Linked DNA regions of Homo sapiens. The protein of the gene in region 1 interacts with the protein of each later gene in a biochemical or structural test. Each region holds a gene or a part of one and is shown on either strand. Other genes may lie near its edges.

Region 1 (8,699 bases):
CTTGATGGCTATGATGTTGAGCATTTTTTCATGTGCTTAGTTGCCATTTATATATTTTCTTTGGAGAAATTAATATTGAGATCTTTTGCCCATTTTTCTACTGGGTTATTTGTCTTATTATTGAGCTGTAATCATTCTTTATATATTCTAGATACAAGTCCCTTATTGGATCTACGATTTGCAAACATTTTCTCTCATTCTGTGGATTTTCTTTTTACTTTGTGTCCTTTGAAGTACCAAAGTTTTTAATTTTGAAGATGTCCAATTTATTTTTTTTATTTTGTTGCTTTTATTTTTGGCATAAAATCTAAGAAACCACTACCTAATCCAAGGTCACAAAGATTTACAGCTGTTTTCTTCTAAGAGTTTTCTAGTTTTCACTCTTACATTTAGGCCTTCGATCCATTTTGAGATAATATATGTATATGGTACTAGGTACTAGGTAGGGGTCTATTTCCCCTATTTTTACAAGGGACGAAACTGAATTTCAAACATCTAGTGAACTCTCCAGAGCCAAACTATTCCAATGCAGCAGTCCTGCTTTGCTACATTGCCTCCAAAAAGGCAAGGGTTTTTATTCGCGGGGACTGGGGAGTTGGTAGGGTGTAGGGAGGACTACAGAGGCAAACCACGGAGGAGTTTGTCAGAGCATACACATGCACTACGCTCAGTAAAAGGGGATCCTGTAGCCACAGAGCAGAGCACAGTCAATGAGCCCCAGCATATGGCAGGTTGTACACAACCTGGAAGGGTGGCTAAACCCAGAGGAGGCCCAGGCCCTCACTCCCAGCACTTTCACATCCCGCCTGAATCCATCCATGAGTTCCTCTAGATCTCCATGCTCCAACCTCAGGCCAGGTTGCCTTGTGCCTTTTGGGCACAGTAGAAGGAAAACAGACTTAAATGGCTTCATAGTTGTTCAGCCAGATGAGCCTCACCCAGGAGAGGACTCAGTTTCCCAACTCTGAGTCCATGTTGCCGGTGGACCTGGAAACATCAAAGTAAGATGGTAGGATTGACAGAAGACTTGACAGCCCTTCTTAAGGCTGCTAAAAGATTGTTGGTTGATGGGAATACAACGATGACATTAACACCACAGGAAACAAGATAAGGGGTCACAGAAGGCAGCTTAGGGGAAAACAGAGGCTTGAAAAGCCTTCTCATTTATAGTTTGTTATGATAATTAAAACTCCAGCTGCGTCTAAACTGCATAAACAACCAGAAACTGGAAAGTCTGCTTGCTTCCCTGAAACCCAGGTCATAGGCTAATACTTCAGAAAGGTTAGTGCTGTCAGAATAGGTAGTTCACTACACATGGAATCAGTCTCTAACAAAGGTAATTTACGGACATACTGCACTGCAGTCAAGGTCATCTTTCACACAGCACCTCACTTAATCTTCGCGATGAAGCTCTGTGATGAGGATGTGGATCCAGTCACCATGTGCAGTATGTGCAGGAAACTGTACTACTTTGGAAAGGGCAGTTTGGATTTTCTCCTGTTACAGATGAGGAAACGAGCTAACTTTCCCAAGGTTGTGCTGGGAATGAGCGAGAGAGCCAGACTTTGAACCCAGAACTTGCACCCAAGCCCAGAACTCTTCCCAGGCCCCAGAAGTAGCCCCTCTGGTTAGGAAGCCTGGATGTGCCCTGCTCCTGCAACGCCTCAGACCACCCACCATCTCCGAGGACAAAATACCCTCAGGTCAATACAAGCCCAAGAAACAGGTTTTTGATTCAATTATAAAAACTACTTTGCACGATCAACACATTTGAAAAGTGAGTCACAAGCCTACCTTATATCTGTGTCTTACTAAGTGCCAGGCATCATGTGAAACCTTTAGCAGCATTAGTTCATTTCATTATCATAGCAGCAACAGGGGTTGGTGGCTCACGCCTGTAATCCCAGCACTTTGGGAGGCCAAGATGGGAGGATCGCTTGAGCCCAGGAGTCCAAAAACAGCCTGGGCAACATGGCAAAACCCCCATCTCTACAAAAAATACAAAAATTAGCCAGGCATGGTGACATGTGCCTGTAGTCCCAGCTACTCAGGAGGCTGAGGTGAGAGGATTTCTTGAGCTCAAGAGGTCAAGGCTGCAGTGAGCCAAGATCATGCCATTGCACTCCAGCCTGGGCAACAGAGTGAGAATCTGTCTCAAAAAAAAAAATTCATAACAACACTAAGAGGTAGGTATTATTATTATCCTCACTTTAAGATATTAATAGAAAACCTAAGAAGCTGTAAGACTTCCTGAGCTTTTCAGAGGTGTCTGATTTCTGCTAAGGACATAGAGATCCAGCCACGTCCTCACCACCACCTCTCCAAGGGACCCTGTGCTAGGATAACAGTGGGTGTGACCGACTTCTGATTTTAAATAAAAGCTTCAGAACCCTTGTGAATGCTCTGGATATGGTATCAAATAAGACTCAACACCACAGGGGCCAATGTTAAACACACTCATAGCTGCCTTTAACTATCACTCATTCTCCCTCAAATTTAATTTTTTTTTTTAAGCTAACAGCTTTCGAAAATGTGCTAACAAAGTAACGGAACTAAAGTGGAAATTACGGATTTCAAAGATGAGTTGGGAGATTCTGTTCCAAGAGAGGACAGATTGGACCTCTCTGCCAAACAAGTATGAGACAAAAAAAGCATCTGAGTCAGGGGGAAGAAGGCCAATGCTATTCCAAAGAGCCACAATTAAAAACCAATTATGCAAAGCTTGCTAAAAAATGTCAGTGGGCTGCCTTTACGTTTCAAATCACTAAAAACACAAGCATGCTTAGGCCAACATTTACCCAGCACATCAGCTGGTTTGGGGCAACTTTTTCTGCTCAGGCTAAACATGGATGCACGTCTTGGTCTCTGTTATGAACAAAGTCTGGGAAGACCACCTGGGGCTGAGTGAACATGGCTTCCAAGGCCGCTCTCTGGTCCATGGATTCCTATTCACACTTCATCCAAAACGGGAAAACCCTCTCAATGTTCTCCAGGGACCCTGGAGAAGATGGGAAATCGCCAATGTGAAATCCACAGACAGTTAAGTCTCCTCTCCAGCTCTGAAAATGATGAGGACACGGATCCGGTCCCCATGTGGAATACACACAGGAAACTGCCCTACGTTGGAAAGGGCAGTCCACAATGATACGTATGCACCGATTCCTCGGGGTGACACCCCCAGAAAGCTCCCTGACAAGGATCAGAAGAGCCTGAGGAGAGGAAGAAACCGCAAAGAGTCACATTCCCAAAAGTAGCTGAGTCATCTCTGAGCCTACTAGCTATACAGCTTCCCAGGACTCTACCCTCAGATATTCTGATTCCATGGACCTTGGGTGAGGTCTAGAAATTTATACTTTTTAAGAAGTTTCCCAAGGTGTTTTGATGACCAGCCACGTTTGGGAATGATTGGTTTGATTTTTGTTGTATTTTGTTTTTTTCTGCCTGAAGTCAACGAAATTTGGAAATAGCAAAACCTAATGAACAATGGCTGGAGATAAGAATTGGGAGGTAGAGCGATCAAGGAATAAAGTTTAAGTGACTTGCCAAGTTGACACAGCTCATAATGTTCAAACAAACAAGCAAGGTCTGTGGGACATAAACATGGGACACAGACTCAAAATCAGGCTGGCAACACAGATGGTATGAAGCGGGCTGGGGGTAAGACATCAGTGAGTAGTGGGGAATGCGGTGAACTCAAGGCTGTATACAAATACAGCAGGCATCTGCCCCTCAGCTCCAACCTCTTGTTGTGTATAAGGGTGTGGCCTTAAGTGGGTAGATATTCTGGTTTTTTAAAAGAAGCCAGAGAGTCCACATTTCCCGGCTTTTAAATATGGCAATTCATTCAATTTTTTAAAAAAGAAAAAGAAAACCACACTGTGATTTTGTTAAAAAAGAAAGAAAAAGCAAACCACCCTGTGAACAAGATTCATCTGTAGGCCGACTCCTGCCCCTTAACGACAGTGTGCAGCCTCTTTCCTGAAAGGTCATCCAGTTTAGCCTCCCTTGAACTCTTGAGTCCCCTCTAGAGCACCGAGACGTGGCGAGAGGGTGAGGGGTCCTGTCTAGCAGGTTGATTAGTAAGTGTCTGGTGTGTCTATGTGTGTGTGCAAGGGTGGGGCTTCAGGCCTCCCTCCCCTCCCAACTGAAAATGCATTCCAGACCCAGAGGCAGGGTGTGACCACCACAGCCACAGCTCGCTGGGAGATGACCTGGGAAGGGCCAAGATCTTCAGGCCAATAGGGACTGGTTGGTGGAGGAGTCCAGCTGTGAGGGGCTACAGAGGAAAAGTCAAGGAAGGAAAGCTCTGGAGAAAGCCAGAGAGCAAAGCTGTCCTGAAAGCGAATACTAGAAAAGAAAGGAGAAAGAAGCAACAGCTTTAAAAATCCCACAACCCAGGAAATGACGTTCCCAGGGTCCCTGGCCAACCATCAGAATGAGCAGTCCTACCACTGCCACGTCCTTGGTCTGCTTAATTTTTCTTCGTGGTGCTGACCACTAACTCACCTTATATATCGTGTATTAATTTGCTTACTTTTGGATGCCGTCACTGCAATATACGGTGCCGAGAGATGTAAGGCTTTGACTGCTTTATCTGTAGCTCTGTTCCCAGTGCCTGGTGCAGTGCTCAGCACATAGTAGATGCTTAACAAATATGGCTTGAACAAAGGGACTGCAGGCAAGCAGTTGGCACCAAAACAGTTTAACGTCATGTGTTGACCATGTAATAATAATGACATCAGCACAAAGCACTTTATAATTCACAAAACCTGTCGTTGAACTTAATTCCTCCCATTTTCTTTTACTGAATTGCTCCATGCGTTTGGACAGAGCCCAGGAGACTGCTGGCCTCTGCAAGGCAAACAACCCAAGAACCAGCTCTGACAGAGCTGCCCGCACAGCGGCTCAGCCGGCTCGCTCTCTCGCTCTCTCTCTCTCTCTCCCTCTCTCTCTCTCTCGGAACTAGGAGACAGTAAGGCTGCAGGACTGCAGGGCTCAGCACTCATCAGACAATGTCATCAAAATGATCGAACATTCTGCGGCCAGGTTCATCCAGCCTCCCCAGCTCAACAGAGCTCTGGTTAGAAGCCTGGAAGGGGTATAGAGGCATGGGAGGCCACACGGCATGTGGTTAAAGCTTGGGCTCAAGGCAGACTGCCTGAGCTCATTTCCCAGCCAGTGACCTTGGACCTCCCTCAGCCTTGTTGACCTCATCTGTAATGTGGGTATAACAACAGCAACAACACTAGTTACTTCAGAGGGTACTTGTGCAGGGTAAACAAGGTACTTCACAAAGAGACCTAGTACCGTGCCTAGGGCTTAGCTCAGCACAAGTGAGACCCGGCTGTAACGGCAGCCATCGTCCACCACACCAGGCCCCAGCGCTATCACTTCCCAGCAGTGTGACCCTGAGTGACTGAACCCCCTCCCTAGACCTCAAACTCTTCTCTACTATGGGGGTAACCTGGACTCCAGGACTGAATAAGGAATGAATGAAGTCATGCATGTTAAGCACTTTGTGCAGGTCCTGGGACATATTAAATGCTTAATGAGCTAGTATCTGATTATTATTAAAGAAACTTTTACTAGTCTAAAATGCCAATATGAAAATCCGCTCAAGGCAGTTTGCCATATGCAAATAGATCTTCAGACCATAGATTCTTCAGCTGCAAGTTTCTTTCCCCACCCCGCTTTAGGTTTTAGTTACTCCAAGAATTAGCTCTTCCCGCCCCTGGGGTCTGACCTAGGAAGCATTTGGAGGTCGGTTCGCAGTGCAGGGCTGGCATCTCTCTACATCGGTACAATCTCGCAGCTCCATCTGCCTCTTCGCCCCCACAACACTGCAGTCTGACAGCGAGGGAGAGGACATGCAAATATGCCCTAAAAACGGCTTGTTATTTTTGCGGCCTGGATGGTGCACGTCTGTGGGTGCCTGTGAGGACAGCACGTCACTGTCGGGTACAGGGCAGATGCCACCAATTTGGGGGTGGCTGTAAAATGTAAAAATACCCAACCCAAATAAAAGTGGCTTTTCCAAAAATAAAAAATAAAAAAAGGGAAGAGTTCCTCCAGTGCCTTTTGCAGAGGAGAGAGGTGTTAACTCAGCCCCCCAGGCGAATCCCAGCTTGACGACCTCTGCCCAAGACACCTGGCTCTTCATCAACCCCATGCGCAGCCTTAGTGCCCCCATGAAACTGCTCAGCTACTGGCTCTAAATGGCAATTTTACTGTGGAATGATCCAGAAACAGATGCTCTCAAGTTACAGACCTGGGAAGGTGAGGAGCAGAGGGCCAAAAGACAAGGACCCTCCATCGTGAAGACAGAACACTATATAAGCCGGGATGTGCCCCAACGACACATTGGCTTACAAGATCAATTCAGAAGAATGTAATCACCATCAACTCACAGCTTGTAATCCACAGTCTTTAGTAGGCACCTATGATGGACCTTATCCACGTGTCTTGAGCACAAATGGCTAACAGGGACCAGGCAGTAGAGGTAAATGAAGGCAGATGGTAGTAGCAAAAGCAAAACCAACAATGTAAGTAGGATCACGAATAACAGGGAGGTGCAGGGGCCTGTGGCCCACTGGAAAGAGGAAACAGTGAAGTGCCTCTGTCCACCCCACTTAGCCATTACCATGCCAGAACAGGGTAGTGTATGATGAGATCTTACAATTTTTTAATCAAAATTTTCAAATGAAATGGGGGTTCGCGTTTCTTTTAAAACACTGAGCCGGCCAAACAAAATACATCTGAGAGCCAGGTCCAGCCTGCAAATGGCCAGTTTGCCACCACGGCCAGTTTGCCACCACAGCCAAGCCCCCAGCAGTCCTCTGCAGTTTTTAGGTACCTATCAGGAGAAGGGGAGCTGAGAGATAGTTGCCTAATATCCCCAGCTCTCCCCTACGGGTACCCAGACACCCTTCTCCACGAAGAAAGTCCTCTCTCCAGCACTTCCAGCACTTCAGCCCTCCGAGCTCCCCCCAGGCTCATCTTTGCCTGTGAACTCTCCCTCCAAGCAGAGCTACCATTCCCAGATGCTCAGCTGCTTCCTGCGCCCTCCCGATCCCAGCCTCTTCCCCACCTCCCACCACAGGCTCCTCCTTTCCAGGGGGCAGCTACTCTGGCAGGCCTCTGAAGAAACGGCGCTGCTGGGAACCTTGCTGGGACAGGCCTTCAGAGAAACGGCCAGCCCTGGGCAAGTCGCCGGGGGCATGCCCTGCACAGATCCTCAGCCATGCCGGGGACTGCTGCTGCTCACCAGTGCCCCGAGAAAAAGGGCTCATGAGAGCTGCAGGTGCAAGGGACCTGAGGAGGAATTCCTTGCAAATGCCACATGTGGGTGCTCCACGTGTGGGTCCCGGGCAAACGCCATCTAAGGCGGACACTGCTGGCTGACCGAGGCCATGCCTAGCTCTGGCAGCTGCTTGGGAAGGGAGGCCACGCTACTCTTCCTCCAAGTTCCCTGGTTCAGCTGCAGAAAGGGCCAAGAGGGGTGGAGGTCACGATGTGACTAATGATAACAATTTTAAAAGATAACCTAATATTGGCATTCTCTTGTCTACTTTTCAAAACATGTACACATTCCCATTCCCATTATCTCCCCAATCCTCCCACCACCCCAGAGAGATGGCCAAGATATTACTATTCATTACTGTCATTATTATCACTCTTCCACCGCCCCCCAGAGAACCAGAGACAGGTTAAACATCCTCCCCTGGCCCAGTGCTTCTCAAGTGTTAATACGTCCACGAATCCCTGGGGGATCTTGTTAAGATGCAGATTCTGATACAGAAGGCCTGGGGCGAGGCCTGGGATTCCACATTTCTGATAACCCCAGGGTGGTACGGATGATACTGGTCCTCAGACCACACTTTGAACAGCAAGGTTAAGGTCCCATGGTGGGTTTAAGGCCAGACCTGGAATCTGCCAGGGGTAAAAGGCTCGCTCACCTCACTTTTCACGGGCTGGGGCCTCTTGCCCAGTTTCACCTCCAGGAAGTGCAAGGGTGCAATCATGGCCCCGAGGTTGCGGATGTCAGCGTATTTCAGCTCCTCCACAGTCAGGGCCGAGCTGGGGAGCCCGGTCAGGGGGCCAAGCCCTGGCAGGGAGCCTGTGGTCACCGAAGGGTCCGGGATCTGCCCAGGCATCATAGCAGGAGGAGTGGCAGGCCAGCCTGGAGTGGGCAGGAAAAGAGCAGGACAGTCAGCCAGGTTGGGGGCTCCAGGAGGGCTCAAGTCCCTCGTCTTGCCAGGACTGTGGCTTCTTTCACCAATGTTCCCCTGAATCCCTTTCCCACCCAGCTGCTCTTCCTGCCGTAAAGTCCTTCCTGTTATAGAGGAAAAGTTGCTCAATTAACTCACACCAAGGTCACCCTTGGCACTGCCAGAAGTGTCTGCCTTTTTTATTTTGAAGGCAATGCTTGACCCAATCATAGGCAACATGTATTCAGCCTTTGGTATGTGCCAGGCCCCATGGTAATCCTGCAGTCCCATTAGGCTGGATCAGAGGTCATTACACAGAGGAAGTAGCCAAGCTTAGAATGATAATTCGCTTAAGGTTGTACACAGTTAAAATTGGTGGAGCTGGGATTTCAATGGCAGCATACAGTCTCTGAAGAGAGCGAATTATAACGGCAGAACCTCAAGCACCTTCACACCTGTTTCAGAGGAAGCTATTTTTGGTCTGGCATGGTG
Region 2 (8,699 bases), on another chromosome or scaffold:
CTGACCTCACTAGAGCCTTTTAATAGCCTGGTTATTCCTGTGTCTATATCCCCCTCCCCCTTCCTGATGTCACAGTTGCTATTTTGGAGCCCCCTCCTTGACCCCCACTCCAGGCATGGAGCCAGGGACACCTGTCCTCTCTCTGGACTGGATGACCTCACCCTCTTGTTGGGAGCCCAGGAGAAGCTGGCCAACCAAGGACACAGTGGCTGTGGCTCCTGGAGCCCAATTTCCCAGCCAGCTTCTGCCAGTCAGGGATGGCAAAGGGGTCTCCTGCCCTCAGGCTGGGAGTGGGAGGATTAGGGGGACCACACCTATAGGCAGAGGCAGGCTTTCCCAGGCCCTTGACTAGCAAGATGTATATGTTGCCAGGGGGTACCCAGTGGTGGACCAGCAAAGAAACAGGGGTCTGGAGCTGCAGCTTCTAAACCAGGGCAGATTCTAGAAAAAGGGCAGTGGAACAGTACTCCCTCAGAGGCCTAGTGCTGGTGGACATTCAGGGTATGGCTGGGGATCTTGTTCACCACCCCTTGCCCCAACCTCATCCTGGCCAACCAGGCCCTCTCAAGAGGAAGGGAAGGGAAGGTCTCCATCAGTGGGGTGATGGGCAGCAGATTCAAGGGAGCCCAGAAAGCCAAGAGCAGCAACCCCTCCCAGCCCAGGACTCCTCCCACCCACGCTAGGAGTAACCAGAAGGGCTGGCTAGCCCTGTCCCAGCTCTCTCTGCCTGCCCCAGGCATAGGAGAGTGTGGCAGGAGAGCCTTATTCTAAAGAAGAGGAAGGCGTCAGTTACCAGGACTCAAAAGCAGGGCCCCCAGAACCTGGAGCACCCAGACATTGAAGGAAACAGGACTTCCTGCTTAGGGAAGATAGTAGCACCCAGGACAGGGACACCCAGAGGTGGCTGGAGCCGGGAGCTGGGGAGCCAGCTCCCAGCACCATTACAGCCTCCAACAAGTAGGAAGCAAAGTATCAGACACAGTCAGAAAATCCTCAGTGCAATTCCCAGAACCCTCCAAGGCAATAAGAGAGGAGATCTGGGATGGGGACAAATGTCTTTTTTTCTTCTGAGATTCAGGTGATACAAGGTCCTCCTAATGTCTAACTTCAATCCTTCATGCTTTAGCCCCCCTCCTTGCAATTCACTTCTCTTTTCCGTTCTCTCCCAACCAGCACACCCATGTATCATCCCACAAACCTTATGGAGCACCCACCAAGCATGGGGTACATGAGCTTCACCCAGAGCCAGGACTGTCTTCCCCAGACTCACTCTGCCCCTCCCTCAAAGGCTGCACTCTGACCTCCTAGCCCTCTGAATCTGAAGGAGGAAAAGAGCCTAACCCTGGCTCCAGGTTCCATTTCCTGAGCCCAAAGGCTGTGGGGATGGGGGGACCTTGACCAAAGGGAAGAAAGCAAGGTCTGCTTAGTGTGCAGTGAAAAAGCCAATGGCTGGCCCAGGAGCACCCTGGATGAAGTGTGAGATGCCAGCTTCCCTGAGACCCAGATATCAGACCTGCCCACCCTCCTGTTCTTTCCTGCCCTTCGAGCCCAGTCATGCTGGAGCCCATCAGCATGGCCTGGGAGCTGCCATGTGCCAGCCAGGCCCCATGCTAGGTGTTGGCTGAACCCTCTCATTTGAAGCCAAGTCCAGGAAAAATGTGAACACCTACTTTGGCATCTTCTACTTCCCCTCAGGGTTGACCCTGCCTTCTCTGGCCATTCCATTCTAAGCCTTCAATCTCTTTGGAATGATAGAGCAGGGAAGAGGAGGGGAGAAGCAGGTCCCGCTCTGCAGTGAGCACAGAGGTGTGCCAGGGGGCATCTCAGTAGAGAAGGGAGGCCAGGAGTCTACTTCTCAGACCCCAGCCCCATGCCAGGATTGACCCACTTTCTCACTGCCTGCCTTCCCTGGGGGCTCTGAAGGAGGCAGAGCCCAAGGCTGGAAGGCAGGACACCGAGGTTCCTGGCTCCACCCCACACCCATGCCCCAGTTTCTCTGGTCACCCAGAGAGCAGGCGTGGGGGGGGGGGGCTGCTGCCCTCCATCCTGGAAAAGGGAAAGAGAGAAAGTGTGAAGGTTCTGGGAGGCGCTGGGCAGGCAGGTGTTGTCATGAAGCTTGTCTCCCTCCCACACTGGGGAGAAGGATCCTGGCCGCCTCCTCCATGGCCCCGCTGCCACCCAGACTGGCTTGCACAGTGGGCCTCACTCTTGCCTGCTCTTCTGGGCAATGGCACAAAGAGGGTACAACCAGAGCTGGCCTGGGTCCCAGGCCCCTGGGCAGCTCCTCCAACCTGGTTGGGCCGAGTCTGAGCTGAGGGAAAGTTCTGTCAGCCTTTCAGCCCCACTGAGGAGAACATGCAGAAGCAAACAGTTCCAGAAAAATAAAGACAGCCTTAATCCTCAAACCCCCTTTTGCCGGAAGAAAAGGCAGAGATCAGGGAATGGTCTCAGGGAAGCAGGCAACCCCATCAATAGCCTCCGCCTGTGATTCCAAGACTGCAAAAGAGGTAAATAAAGTCAAAGGCTGGTAGGCAGCCCGAGCCAGAGGGAAGTCATCAGCTCCCACCTTCCTGGGCAGTGGGCCCCAGAAGGAAATCACTCACAGTCTCCACCTGCTGCCCCTCACCAAAACAGTCTCTCTTGCTAACATGTTCACTGTGAGGACCAGGGATGGCCCATCTCATATTTTCTTCTGTCTTCCACAGGCTGAGCCTGTTGGTGATACTCAGTGAGGACTTGCCAAACTGAAAAGCTCCTACGCTGAGAGGACTTGAGGGGAACCAGAAGCTCTGCCCCTTACAAAGCCTACTGTCCTTTACTCTGGGGAAAGAGGAGCAAGTGTTCAGGGAAGTGAGGAAAAGGTGGGAGGCGCTCAGGGGCTGCAGCAGACCCTGGGGACTAACCATTTCCTTCCTTCCCACCTCTTATCTCCTGCCCCATGGCCCATACCTTTCCTTCTTGGGGCTCTCTACAGGGAAGTGGACACCCGCGTGCTCTGGCTTCAATCGGTGGTCTCACTTTACTTCCGCCGAGTTCCAAGGCATGTGGTTTCCAGGCTTCTGCCAGGCGCTGGGCACCCCAGCCCTAGCCCAGATGCCAGCCCAAGCTCTGGGAATAGCAGACGCTAGGCCCCTCAGAAAGGAAGAGCTGGGGGGAGGCTGACTATCTCCCTGGCCCAGGGCAGCTGGAACCCCACAACTGGGAAAGCCAGTCCAGAACCCCAGGAACACTCTGCAGGAAGGGCCTCAAGCAAACATCCCCAAGCAGTGGCCCCAGTTCCAAAGCCTCTCAACAATCCTAAAATGAGGTTCCCAATCCCTGGCCCCCTCCTTTTTTCCTTCTTTCCCCAACACAGAGAAGACAGCATCTCCCCCTGCTGGGGGGAGCTGGAAAGCCAGGCAGGACGCGGGGCCCATTCCACAGGCCCACTCAGGACGCCCCTCCTGGCCAGGGCTCAGCAGTGGCTCTCAAGCTGCCAGCCTCCTGCGTTGGTGGACACGTCCAGCTCCTCCAACACTCTTGTCAGCTCCCACAGAGGTAGCTGCAAGGGAAACTTGGACCGCCAGCATCTGGAAAGGTAACCCAATAACTTCATCTATCCTGGGTTGATTATCACATTTCCCTGCAAGGGAAAGAAACCCCAAAGCTGGGAAAAATCCTTTCCAAGCCACCAACAGATGCCGCTAGGCAGCTTCAATTCCCTTGGCCAAGAGTTAGACCCCAGCCCCATGGGAAGCAGGGACTGCAGATGGCTCCTGGACAGGTCAGCGTCACAACTCAGAGGAAAGAAGTAGCTGGCACTACTGCCCGACATGGCTGAGCTTGCTGGGGTAGTGTCCAGCCAAGATGCACGAGGGACAGATGAGGACCCAGGCCTCTCCTTTCCCTTCGCCATCCAGCCTCAGAGGGGCAAGCAAGAGGGCAGAGCTGGGCAGCCCACCTGTCCCAGCCCCTAGGGGCTGAATGAGGGCAAGGGCAGAGGGAGGAATATCTGAAGGAGAACAGCAAACCCTACAGAAAGGATGATGGGGAAGAAAATGTGGGGTGGTCTGGATTCCTCCCTGATGCTGCTTCTGTACAATCCTGCAAATGGGTATTCATCCTAGGCCCCAATTGCCCTATCTCTAAAAGGAGAAATATCCACCTACCCCTACATAAAAAAGATGAGGAGTACGATGGGCCGTGGAGAGCTAAAGTTGAGCAAGATGGACCTTTAACACTGTGTGGAAGGAGACACCCGAGGAGGAGGAGACGACAGCCACTACTCTGACCACACTGCCCCAGGACCCTCCTGGGAAACTGCTGAGGGTCCAGCTCAGGCCACTAGAACACAGCCTCACAGGCATACATCCAGACCCAGCTGCACATCAAGCTGCCTAGAGTCCCCCAAATAGACTATTTCTGGCAGCACTGGACAGGGTCCTAGGAACAAAGAGGAACAGGAAATCTCAGAGTAAAAGACCCCAGATTAGCAATCTACCATATGAAGGGCCCAAGAGGAAGAGAGGCAGTCTACCTGGACTCAGAGGAGAGCCGAGACTCCTCTACACACGTCACCCCACTCCCACCCAATGCCACGCACCTGCACACGGAGGTTAAGGCCCAGTGCCCTTGTAAACCTCCACTAAGAAAAAAGTATGGAACACAAACATTCCACTAAGTAAAGAAGCCACCATCACGAAAAGGAAGCTGAGCATTCTGCTATAGTAAAGAAATTCCTCCAACATCATCCCAGACTGCCCAGAGAGATTAAGGGATACACACTGCCCCCTCAGGCCCACCTGTCTTGGCTAGCAGGGGAAGGCGAAGCTGGAGCTGAACACCCCTAAGTTGAGAGGGCAAGCATGGGGGGCAGAGTAGGACCCATTGCCTTCCCAGGACCAGACCGGACCATCGATCCCTCGATTCCCAGGTCTACCTCATGGGCCCTTTCTTGCAACACTTCTCCACTCCTTACCCCCTCATTCCCTTATAGCTCAGACAGTAAAGGTCAGCTGGCCTGGAAGGGAAACCCACACAGCCCATTGCATCCGAAGCTACCCCAGGGTGCTCTTCTCCAACCTCCCAGCTCTTACCCGACTCGTTGGGAGAGTTCATGCCGGCTCTGGGCCTGCAGGAAGCTGGCGTTGGGGGCTGGGACGGGAGGGGGTGGAGCTGCGGTGATGTCAAGAGAGACAGACGATAACAGACAGACGGACGGGACGGGAGCCCGGGGCCGCCGTGCCTCTAATGCCCATCCGAGGCCATCCTTCGGGGCGAGGCAGTCAGGCACTCAGAACGGCATCCCTGGGGAGAGATGGAGCAGGGTTAGAGGCCCCTAACTCAGGAATCTGAGAGTCGAAGGAGACCTTGGAGCTCATCAGTTTGTACCTGGGGATGAGGGATGAGAGGGAGGGATACCTGCCCACAGCCACAGGAGAAATCTGCAGAACTGGATAGACCCTGGTTTCTTATCTTACTAACTGATGAGGCTCCCAGAGCCCAAGGGATAGGAAATGGCTATGGTGGCCAAACCCAACAGACCCCTTTTCAGGTGAGTGTCTACTGCCAGCTGGGGAGACCCTATAGACTCCCAACAGTGCCTGCCATGGGACTAGGTGTGCACCAAAGGAGAAAGTGCAGGGGGGCTTCTGATCTGTATCCATAGCAGTGGGGAGATGCAGGGCTGATCTAGAGTCCCTGGCAGAAGTGAAGGGAGAAACTGGTATCCCAGCCTCCATAGCCTAAGCTGGGACTTCTAGGGGTCTTCTCCCGACTTTCTGATCCTTGTGCCACCCAGCTCTGGAAATATGGATGTGCTTCTGTTTTGGTCTCCCACAGTTCAACAACAGACCAGGACAAGAGCTTCTCTTTCCAGGAATTGAGAAAGTCAGAGACCTCTCCATCCCAAATCTAGTACCCTTGGCCTGGCAGGTGCAGGGCCCAAGCCCAGCACTTTGTGTATATTGTACAGGTTGTGCTCTGTGTAAGGAGGTCTGGCCCAGGGAGATACGAAATCCAGCCTGTGCCCTGCCTGCCAAGCCATGGCCTGACATGCTGAGTCCACCCAAAACAAGGGACGATTTTTTCCCAGTTTGTACGAAAGCAACAAAAGGCCCAGCAGTAGCCCTGCTGAGGCCAGTATAGTAAAGGAGGAGGTATTACAGGACCACGGCTTTGCCAACCCATGCCCACTCCTCCAGTTCTCCCCCACAGTTAGTCCTCAAGCCTCAGACACTATGCATACAGACACCTGGCCCATCCCTAAACGGCCCACGATCCACCCCAGACATGATCTCATTCATTTGCTTCCAAATGAAGGCAGGCCCTCCAATACCCAATGAAAGCAAGGTAGCAGGAAGCCATCAGAGGAGGCTGTGAGCTGCTGCGAGTTTAAGCCCTAACTCTGCTCCCCAAGCCTCGAACCAGCAATCAGCTCTGCCCCCCTAGACAGCCCCACCTCCTGGCAGGATTAATTCTCAGTAAGCCTTACATTCTCATCAGATTCCCAAGGGTGGGGTCCATTTGGAGCCCAGAAGCCCAGAAGCCAGCTATGGCAGAAACACAAGAACATGAACACACATGCGCATGCACGCACACATGCACACACGAGACCCTGAGGTCCCAGGCTTGCTGCTGGGACCACAGGGCTTGGACTCTATGGCTGGAGAAAGGTGCACTCAGATTGGGGGGCAGAGTTGAAGGGGCTAAATTGCTCCTGACGGGCACAGGTATGGGATTAAGACAAAAAAGGCTGCGCAGGCAGGGCTGAGGCCAAGCTCAGGAATGTGGCAGGTAGGGCTGCTGGTGCTCTGGCAGGGCCCACGTGGGCAGGCAGTTCAGCCTGTGCCCACACCAAGGCTGGCACCCAGTCCTGCTCACACCCTTTCCCGTGGGCTGGGGAACACAGGTTCAGAAATGCCCACGATTCCCAGCAGCCTGAGTAGCCCAGTCCATCTCCACAGTGAGAGGCACCTCCACAGCAAGGTGCTCAGAAGGGGCACAGCCCCAGTGGCACAGAAACCAGGTTAAGGTTAGCCCCTAGCCCCCATCATCCTAACCCACCTACTCTCTCTGTGGGTCTTAAAGATGCTGATCCTCACCCCTGAGGCAGAAGAGGAAGGGAGCAGCTCCTTGAACTCATGGTGGGCTCGGGACTCATCTACGTCTACTCCTCCCCGTCCTATAAAATTCAGCAGGATCCCTGGGCCCCTGGGCCCTGTCCACCTGTAAAGAGTGTCTGCCAACACCCCCATCAAGTCTCCCAAGTGAACCAGAGCCACAGGCTGAGCCTCCCTGAGAAACAAAGCAGTGTTCATGGTCTGATCGGGACAAGCACAGATTCCTGTCTGGGGTGGGACATGAAGGGGAGAAGGGGAGCCTGATGTTTAAAACCTGAGCTGTTTGTTCCCACATCTGCCAGAGAAATCTGTTGGGTCTCAGTGGGAAGTCAGGGACACCAGGAGCTGTGTCCCAGATGACCTAACACTTGGATGCCAAACCAGGGAGTGGCCCAACTTCCAGGACATCATAAGCAGACAGACCCCTGCCCACCCCACTACCTCACACCAACTCTTTCTTCCAGACAGACCCCTACCCCACTCCGGGATCCAAAACCACCTCCCACATCCAGCCAAGACAGCCGGACAAGGATGAAGGAAACAGGCTACATCTCACCCTACAAGCTCAGGGCTGAGCCTATGGAAGTAGGGTGGAAACCCCAAACTCTGGCAAAGGGTGGGTGGAGGAGGGCAGACAAGTGAGGGGCACATGGTACAAAGCAATGCTCCAAAGGCCATAGGTTCACAATGTTACCCTGTAGAGATCTTGTTCCTCAAACAACTCCCTCAAAATTCCTGGGGAGTCAGGTGTCCCTTGAAGACCCTCTCTGGATCCTGGAGTCCAGTACCACCATGCAACCCCCTCCCAACACACCTGCTCTGGCCCCAGGCCAGGGTACCCCCTAGGTCATAGGTGACAGGGTCAAGCAGTGTGAATCAAGTCTTGGGAGTCTGAGATTGTTTCACTCTACCCCGACAGTTTCATCAAAAATTACAAACCGGCCAGGCGCGGCGGCTCACGCCTGTAATCCCAGGACTTTGCGAGGCCAAGGCAGGCGGATCACCTGAGGTCAGGAGTTCCAGACCAGCCTGATCAACATGGAGAAACCCTTTCTCTACTAAAAAAATACAAAATTGGCCAGGTGTGGTGGCGCATGCCTGTAATCACAGCTACTCGGGAGGCTGAGGCAGGAGAATCACTCGAACCCTGGAGACAGAGGTGCGGTGAGCCAAGATTGTGTCATCGCACTCCCGCCTGGGCAATAAGAGTGAATCTCCATCTCAAAAAAAAAAAAAAAGTTACAAGCCAAGACATCCCACCCAAAGGTCAAAGGCACTAGGAATTTATCTTGACCCCTCCTGACCATGGCCACAGCCTACCACTTTCCTCAGCCTCTGAGAGCTTCTGTTGCCTAGTGCCTCCCCCAAGCTAGGCCAACAGAAGCCCAGAAGGATCAGAGCCATGAAGGGTGGCTGACTTGGATGTCCAGGCCCCAAACCAGGGAAAGGGGGAGGGTGACAGGGAAGGAAAAAAGGCACCAGGCTGACAAATTCATTTTTGCAATCGGCCCATTTCTGTTTGTCTGCTCAGACGCAGCTCCAGGCATCTGCACAAGCCAGATGGAGGAGGCTGCTATTTCTAGAAAAAAAAAAAAAAAA

What was found. Proteins that work in one complex are often made in the same cells at the same time.
Region 2: the proteins of JDP2 (region 1) and HDAC5 form a complex in vitro, tested with the Homo sapiens proteins (one study listed by BioGRID).

Annotation. Positions count from the first base shown.
Region 1 is NC_000014.9:75,437,378-75,446,076, reverse strand, and holds part of JDP2 (jun dimerization protein 2), read right to left. Parts: intron 8,180-8,699; coding exon of another isoform or gene 8,157-8,179; coding exon 7,956-8,156; intron 1-7,955. UniProt on the Homo sapiens protein: Component of the AP-1 transcription factor that represses transactivation mediated by the Jun family of proteins.
Region 2 is NC_000017.11:44,112,419-44,121,117, forward strand, and holds part of HDAC5 (histone deacetylase 5), read right to left. Parts: intron 8,178-8,699; exon of another isoform or gene 8,020-8,177; intron 7,686-8,019; exon of another isoform or gene 7,569-7,685; intron 5,287-7,568; 5' UTR 5,098-5,286; coding exon 5,076-5,097; intron 3,578-5,075; exon of another isoform or gene 3,494-3,577; intron 1-3,493. UniProt on the Homo sapiens protein: Responsible for the deacetylation of lysine residues on the N-terminal part of the core histones (H2A, H2B, H3 and H4).